Homo sapiens: one gene and its partner. The protein of the gene in region 2 interacts with the protein of the main gene of each other region in a biochemical or structural test. Each region holds a gene or a part of one and is shown on either strand. Other genes may lie near its edges.

Evidence for each region.
Region 1: the proteins of SLC2A1 (region 2) and WWP1 form a complex in vitro, tested with the Homo sapiens proteins (one study listed by BioGRID).

Annotation. Positions count from the first base shown.
Region 1 is NC_000008.11:86,432,755-86,436,571, reverse strand, and holds part of WWP1 (NEDD4-like E3 ubiquitin-protein ligase WWP1), read right to left. Parts: intron 1,121-3,817; coding exon 1,045-1,120; coding exon of another isoform or gene 1,036-1,044; exon of another isoform or gene 1,034-1,035; intron 940-1,033; coding exon 868-939; intron 1-867. UniProt on the Homo sapiens protein: E3 ubiquitin-protein ligase which accepts ubiquitin from an E2 ubiquitin-conjugating enzyme in the form of a thioester and then directly transfers the ubiquitin to targeted substrates.
Region 2 is NC_000001.11:42,931,369-42,935,185, forward strand, and holds part of SLC2A1 (solute carrier family 2, facilitated glucose transporter member 1), read right to left. Parts: intron 1-3,817. UniProt on the Homo sapiens protein: Facilitative glucose transporter, which is responsible for constitutive or basal glucose uptake. Has a very broad substrate specificity; can transport a wide range of aldoses including both pentoses and hexoses.

The DNA of each region.
Region 1 (3,817 bases), on a different chromosome or scaffold from region 2:
AGCAGTAAACCAATAGTCCCTGCTCTCATGGAGCTCACATTCTAGTAAGGAAGACAAAATACACTATGTTGGGTGGTTATGAAAAAGAATAAAGCACCATAAATGGCTGGAATGTGACTGTGAGGGAGAAGAGAAGGACTGCCATCTTAAAATAGTAGGCTCAGAGAAGGTCTCTCTGAGATCACATTTAAACAGAAACATAAAGGTGAAAATAAAGTTATTAAAGGAATTCTCAAATGGAATACAGTATCTACCAATTTAATTTTAATTTGATAGCATTATCAAAACTTTGAGGTAATAAATTCTTAGCCAAGTATTGTGTCAAAACAAGAATCAACTTGTTCCAAAAGCTGTTTAAGCTTTATTTTAGTAAATACACATCTAAATTCATGATATGTCTCTCAGTCTCAGTACCTTTACCTATAACATGGAGATACAATAAGTGCTATCTCAAAGGGATGCTGTGAGGACGAATGAAATAAAATGAGAAATGTAAGATGCCGGTGTTTTGCAAATGATAATCACTCAGTATATGGGAAGGTTTAGTGTAACTATGATTAAAATGGGCACTCAGGCCAGATGCAGTGGCTCAAGCCTGTAATCCCAGCATTTTACGAGGCCGAGGTGGGTAGATCGTTCGAGCCCAGAGGTTGAGACCAACCTGGGCAACATGGCGAAATTCCATCTCTATTTAAGAAAACAGAACAAAACAAAACAAAACAAAGGCACTCAACAAGTGGTGGTGGCAGTCATTATTATTATAGCTGTGTTCTGGGTGGTTTAAAAATCTCTAAAACCCTGACTTTCTTTAGATGCACAGAATACAATGAGACAAATGGTGTTTTATTCTGCTAAAATCCTCCTTACCTGTTGGAAGGAATCTTCAAACAATGTCTGCCGGGACACATTGATCTTTACATGACTAGGTAGTGCATTAGACTAAAAACAAAAATAATATCATAATATCATCTGAGTTATAGTATATGTATTGTATAAAGAGAAGACTAAATTATTGAGTATAAGATTTATTTACCACTATAGTACCTGGCACAAATAACGGAAGTGAGCAAGCTTCCACCTAAAGCCGCGTTCATAAGCAATTTGTGGACCACCTTTAGTTCTAAAGAAAAACAAAAATAAACCAAATTAACTCATAATAAAGTTGAATATTTAGTATTCAGTATAAAATCAGAGTGTACTAAAGTCCAACAAAATACCACAGGAAGATTTCTGCTGGGAGAGAAGGGTATACATACATGGTGGGCCAAAAGAAGCTCAAGTAATGGGGACTATTACAGCAACAGGACACACATATACACAAAGAAGGACATTGTATTTATGGCTGGATCTTTTGTTAGTGAGTTAAATGAAATATCAAAGTCTACTACAGACTATTTCAAAGAAAATCTTCGATAATCCTTAAATCTAAGGAGGACAGAGGCTCCAGACAGAAGAGACGTGGAAGGAAATTCTACCACATCCTAAGCCTAACCTAAAACCCAAACAAATATTCCTGGAGATAATAAGCAAAGCAAAATCAAATTCCTAGAAACAACATTGTCATCCAGATCACACGGTTCACGTGGTCAGTGAGAGAAAAGGCAGAGTTGGTGGCACGGCACCTAGGAATACAGGTTTTACAATATGGTTTGACTCACAGTGACAGAGCCTGGATCTCTTGCCTATTGATTGAGGGCCTGACAGGCACAAAGAACTTTCATAATGTTAAGGAACACTTTGGAACAGATGAAAAATGTTCTCTTGTGTTGTCAGGTTCAAGTGAATTCACTTACTCAAAAAGCATTTACTGAATGCATAGCTGGTACCTGGCTTTCTTCTAGACAGTGACAGCATTACTTATTAATAGGTAAAAATGCCTGTTTTGTGGAGCTTATATACTAGTGAAGGAGATAAGACAAAAAAATATAATAAATAAGTAAAGTACAAATGTCTTATCACTCCTGACCTAGAACAATAAAACAATAAAAAAGGCATTGTTAAAAGGACAAAGTATAAGGAGTGATATGAGAAGCATTTTGTGATTTTCAAAAGGGTAAAAGGAGTAGAGCTCACAGACAAAGTGACATTTGAGCAAAAACATGAAGGAGAGGGCAAAAGCCATATGGAGTTTCGGGAAAAGAGCATACCAGGCAGACGGAATAAAGGCTAAGACCCAAGGTGGAAGCTGAAGGTGTTGAAGGCACAGCTAGCGTCCAATGAAGCTAGAACACGGTGAATGAGGAGGAGCGAAAACCAAGAGGAGGTTGAAGAGATAAGAGGGGTCAGATCCTGTAAGGCCATTTAGGCTGTTGTAAAGTGTGCTTTTTACTCTTATTGAGATGGAAACCACTGAAGGGTTTTGTGCAAATAAATGACTTTTAATTAAATTTTGTTTTGGAAATTCAGTCTCTGTGCTGTATGGAGAGTAACAACATTGTACAAGGTGTGGGAAGAAAGCAGAGAGAGGACTCTGCTACCAAGCCAGGCAACAGATAATGGTAGCTTGGACCAAAATGGTGGCAATGGGGGTGGTGAGGCATAGCTGGATTCTAGATATGTTTTGAAGTTGAGGTAACTAGAATTCTTGATGGACTGTTTGTAAGGTAGGAGAGATAGAGGAGTTGTGGATGATTCTACATTTTTTTTTTTTCCTAAGATGGAGTTTCGCTCTTGTTGCCTAGGCTGGAGTGCAATGGTGCAATCTCGGCTCACTGCAACCTCTGCCTCCTGGGTTCAAGCGATTCTCCTGCCTCAGCCTCCTGAGTAGCTGGGATTACAGGCACACGCCATCACGCCCAGCTAATTTTACCATGTTGGCCAGGCTGGTCTCGAACTCCTGACCTCAGGTGATCTGCCCGCCTCGGCCTCCCAAACTGCTGGGATTATAGGCGTGAGCCACCATAACAAGGTGATTTCAAAATTTTTGACCCAAGCACCTGCTAGAGTGGAGTTATCAACTGTGACAGGGAATATCACAGGTAGAGCTGGGTTTTTGTTGTTGTTGTTATAATTTTTTTTTTTTTAGAGACTAGCTCTTGCTATGTTGCCCAGGCTGGTCTCAAACTCCTGGGCTCAAGTGATCTACCCGCCTCAACCTCCCAGAGTGCTGGGATTATAGGTGTGTGCCACCATGCCTGGCCAGAGAGCAGGTTTTACAGGACCTACCAAGAAGGAGTTACAAGTGGAGATGTCAATAAGCAGCTGAATATAGAAAGCAAAATTTCAAGTGAGAAGTCTGAGCTAAATTTGTGAGTCATTAGCAGGCACATGTTTTAAAAGCATAATACTGAGTAAGATGCATCAAGAGAATGAATGTAGTTAACAAAAAAAAAAAAAAAAAAAGAGGCTTAGGAAAAAAAGGAGGACTCGACAAAATAAAGATAGAAGAACAGAAACGCAGAGGGAAATCAAGAAAGTATGGCTCACAGCACTACTTTTGCCAGGAGAGAGAAATGTATTGTGTCAAATGTTCCTGGTAAGTCAAATCAGGCAGGACTGCAAACCAACGCCTGGATTAACAATGTGAAGATCATTGGTGCCCTTGCAAATTCAGTGTCAGGGGAACTTCCTTGGAGTTGGTTTAAAGGAGAAACTATGAACAGCAATACAGAGACAACCATGCAAGTAGCTTTCCTGTAAAGGGGAGCAATAAAAATGAACTGTGGGCTGGGTGTGATGGCTCACGCCTGTAATCCCAGCACTTTGGGAGGCCAAAGCAGGTGGATCGCCTGAGGTCAGGAGTCCGAGACCAGCCTGGCCAACATGGCGAAACCCCATCTCTACTGAAAATACAAAAATTAGCTGGGTGTGGTGGCGG
Region 2 (3,817 bases):
CTTTCCCCAGGCGAGAAACAAGGGGTTGGAGTTCATCTGAGAGCCCCGCCAACTCTCCCACTTCCCCTAACGTGTGGTTTCCAGTGCCCTGTGGTTTCACAGGCTCAGTGTGACTTGCTGGGATGATGGCAAGTGATCAGTGGTGGAAGTTCAGGCATAGAACAGAGAGGTACAAGACCAGGTGTGGTGGCTCACGCCTGTAATCCCAGCACTTTGGGAGATCAAGGCAAGCAGATCACTGGAGATCAGGAGTTCGAGACCAGCCAGACCAACATGGTGAAACCCTATCTCTACTAAAAATAAAAAAAAAATTAGCTGGACGTGGTGGCGCAAGCATGTAATCCCAGCTACACGGGAGGCTAAGGCAGAATTGCTTAAACCCAGGACACGGAGTTTGCAGTGAGCCAAGACTGTGCCACTGCACTTCAGCCTGAGTGACAGAGTGAGACTCTATGTCTCAAAAAAAAAAAAAAAAAAAGAGAAATACAGAAGGAAAAGGGTCTTCCCACTTGCCCCTTTTCTCCTCACCATGTCTCAAAGCCCCAGGGGCCCATCTCCTGCCATCAGGCCCTCCCCCCAACCCCTTGCTGGGGAGGAAGCAGGGCTTGACAGACAGGTTCCGCCATCCAGGAAGTACAGACTCCCTGACCGCACTGAGGGCCTGGTGTGACAAACTCACACATGTCACCCTTCAGAAGTGCTTGAAAGACTCACGCTGTGGCTTTCTGTTCCCCAGGCCTAGCTCCCTTGTGTCTGGCCTGCGAGCACCCCCTTGAAGGACCCACGGCCTCCTCCCCTCTCCCAAGGGCCCAGCTAGGAGGTATGGGGAAAGGTTCCACACAAGGAAGCAGTTCCAGGAACTGGAAACGCCCGTCCTAGGGCAGCCCTGCCCACCAGCCCTGCCCCCACCCTGGCCAGCTCCCACGGATGTGGTAGGCAGGCAGCACCCGTTCTGCCTGAGCACACTCACCACACTCTCAGTGCCATGGGACTGGCCAGACCCACCCAGCCACACGTATAGCAGAGTGCAGGCCCTAGTTACCCAGAAACGGCTTCTTATGCACGTATACCATCACACACACATACCCGTGCTCATAGAATCTAAATATTCCTGCTTTAGCCAGTCACAAACTCACATGCCCCTCATCCCCTACCACTTACAGCTCAAACTCAATTCCATGTGAACCCAACCCATCCCAACACCCCTCCGTGTGTGTGCATGCCACAGGTTCATGCACACACAGCGGTATGCAGCCTCTGCAGCCTCCATCACTGCTGTTGGTCCTCCCTATCCCTTCCAACCCACTGAGGTCTAGCAGAAGAAGAAGGTGTGGGCAGGCACACTTGCCAAACCAAAGCCTGCAGTCCCAGAAATGCCCACCTATTCAAATATGCTGGGCCTGCCTCCTGGTGCCTTCCTTCCCATTGCTGTGGGTGCTCAGCCTCTAGCCATCTTTTCCCCTGCCCTGTCACAACCTGTCCCAAGTCAGCAGGCATCTGATGGAGGCCAGGCTCCAAGGGGCGAGGACAGTTGGTAGGGCAGAGGCAAGCCCTAAGGATCTGCTTGTCCGTTCCAAGGACGCCATGCAGGGCAGTGAATAGAAACCTGAACTCTGATTCTGGACACAACTAAATTCAGGTCCTAGCTCCACCCCTTATTTCCAGTGTGACCATGAGCAAGTTATTTCATCTGTGAGTTTCCATGGCCCCATTTCTAAAGTGCAGACATTAGCAGGAGCTGCTTCACAGTGCTGCAGGGAATCAGTGAAACAGTGCTTGGTGTCATCATCCCTAAAATCACCCCACTGCACACTGGTGGCCTGAAGGCTGTGCAGACCACTAACAGAGTCTCCCCAAGCCTTCAACCCGTAACTCAAAATCGGGGCTCCTGCCAGGTATCAATCCAATCTCCCTACCTACCACACCTTTGCACTCACTACACACCATCTCCCACCCCTCTACGCCTTTGAGATGCTACTACTCCTGCCTGGAAGGTACCCCTGGCCTTATTGCTGAAACCTTTCGAGATCCAGGTTTCCCTGACTCCAGGAGTTTGTCTTCCCTGAGGAAGACAGTTGATTCACACCATGGTCTGTCCCAGAGCCAGTGCCAGGGATACCTGGTGAGGAAATGGAGGAATCGAACCAAAGGTGTTAGGCTCTCCTCTTAGAACCCCTTGATTCTGCTGGGGGCAGACAGAAGGCAGATTTTGACAAAAAACAGAGTAACAAAATGCAAAGTGTTCTTCTGTGGACGAAACTAACCCCAGAGGAGGACTGGTTGGGAACGGTAATGCCCCGTTTATCAGGCTCCACCAAGAACAGGCTGCTCTGAATGAGGGTGGATATGGGAACGGTCCAGATAAATGGCGCTTGCCCTTCTGAGGGTCCAATCTTTCCTGACCCATTATGGGGTGAAAATGTGAAGAGATTTCACTTTGCTCTCCTGAGCAACCAGACCTACAAGCAGGGCTGCAGGGCAATGGTGTCTGCCCTTGGGGCTCTCTCCAGGGGCAAGGAGAGGTGTTTGTCCCTGTGCAGACTGGCTCCTGATGGCTAAATTTCTGCATTCCATAGTTCTAAGGTATTCCCCCAACCCTCTGTGGTTCAGAGGCTTGTCTTGTACAACTCTCCACACCTCTTTTGAAATTTGCCAAGAAGTCAGCAAATGGAATTTGTTTGAATTGTATACAAAGAAAGAGTAAATAGGTGCTAAGTAAGGCTTGAAACTACCTAAATAAGCTTGAAGATCTCTTGAGATGTTGGGGCAACTGACAAGAGGGCTGTGTGTAAGTGAGGTGTGACCAGAGCTCCACCCTGAGTTACGTCTCCTGCCTGTGGTCACACAGTCAAAGGGACCCAACCTTGTCCAGGGCTGGCTCCTGGACGCTGCCTAGCTGCTCTGTTACTCAGACCACTTTATGGGGTGGAGGAAGGGTGAGCAGCCAGCTCTCTGCATGTTCACCTTGGCCTAGACCCATCCTCTCCAGCCCACAGCAGCACTTCCTGGCCAAGCTGAGGCTGGGGAGTGGGTTTCTGCCTCTTGATGCCTGAGATTTCTGGGAAGAAGCCACGCCTGGTTTTCCAATTCCTACTGCTGGTTCCGGTGCTCTGTGCCCTCTCCTCCCTGGGGATTCGTATGGGGTTCCACGCTGACTCTTGGCCCAGGAAAGGCAGGGGGATGCTGGAGAATGAGAAGAACCCTACATGGGGAAAAGCTCTGGGGTCACATCCTCCCTAGAAGTGTCTGGGTGCACCTCAGGAAAGAAGAGTCTACTTATTATGCCCTGACAGGATCCCACAGGCCCAATCCCGCCGGCTCCCAGCAGCCTCCGCAACCCTGGGTCATGTGTGAGGTGAGACCTGGCACGTGCCTGTTCTGAACGCTCCCACCTCACATGCCCGTCCCAAGCTTAGGATTTAAACACTTGATGCTGCCACCACCCCACATCCATCCATCACCAGGTCCTCTCGATTCTGCCTCCGAGTCTGTCCTACTTCTCTACCCAGGCAGCCTGCCCTGGGTCTCATCTGGATTCTGCTCCCGACTCTTCCTATCCACCAAAGTCAGACCCCATTTCCCACAGTGAACCACCCCTCAGAATGCAGTCGGAGTCCTGCACACCAAATGTGCCAGGCTCGGCCATCCACCCGCTTCTCTGCTCCCTTCCCAGCCCAGTCTCTTCACCCAGCTGTGGAGTCTGGGTGGCGGCAAGCGTGTTGAGGAGGGAGGAGCGGTTCTGGTTAGTTCCTGGGGGGACTGCCATGGTGTCGGCCAGCCTAGAGCTGAGGGGCTACTACAGATCTCTGTCCAGGTG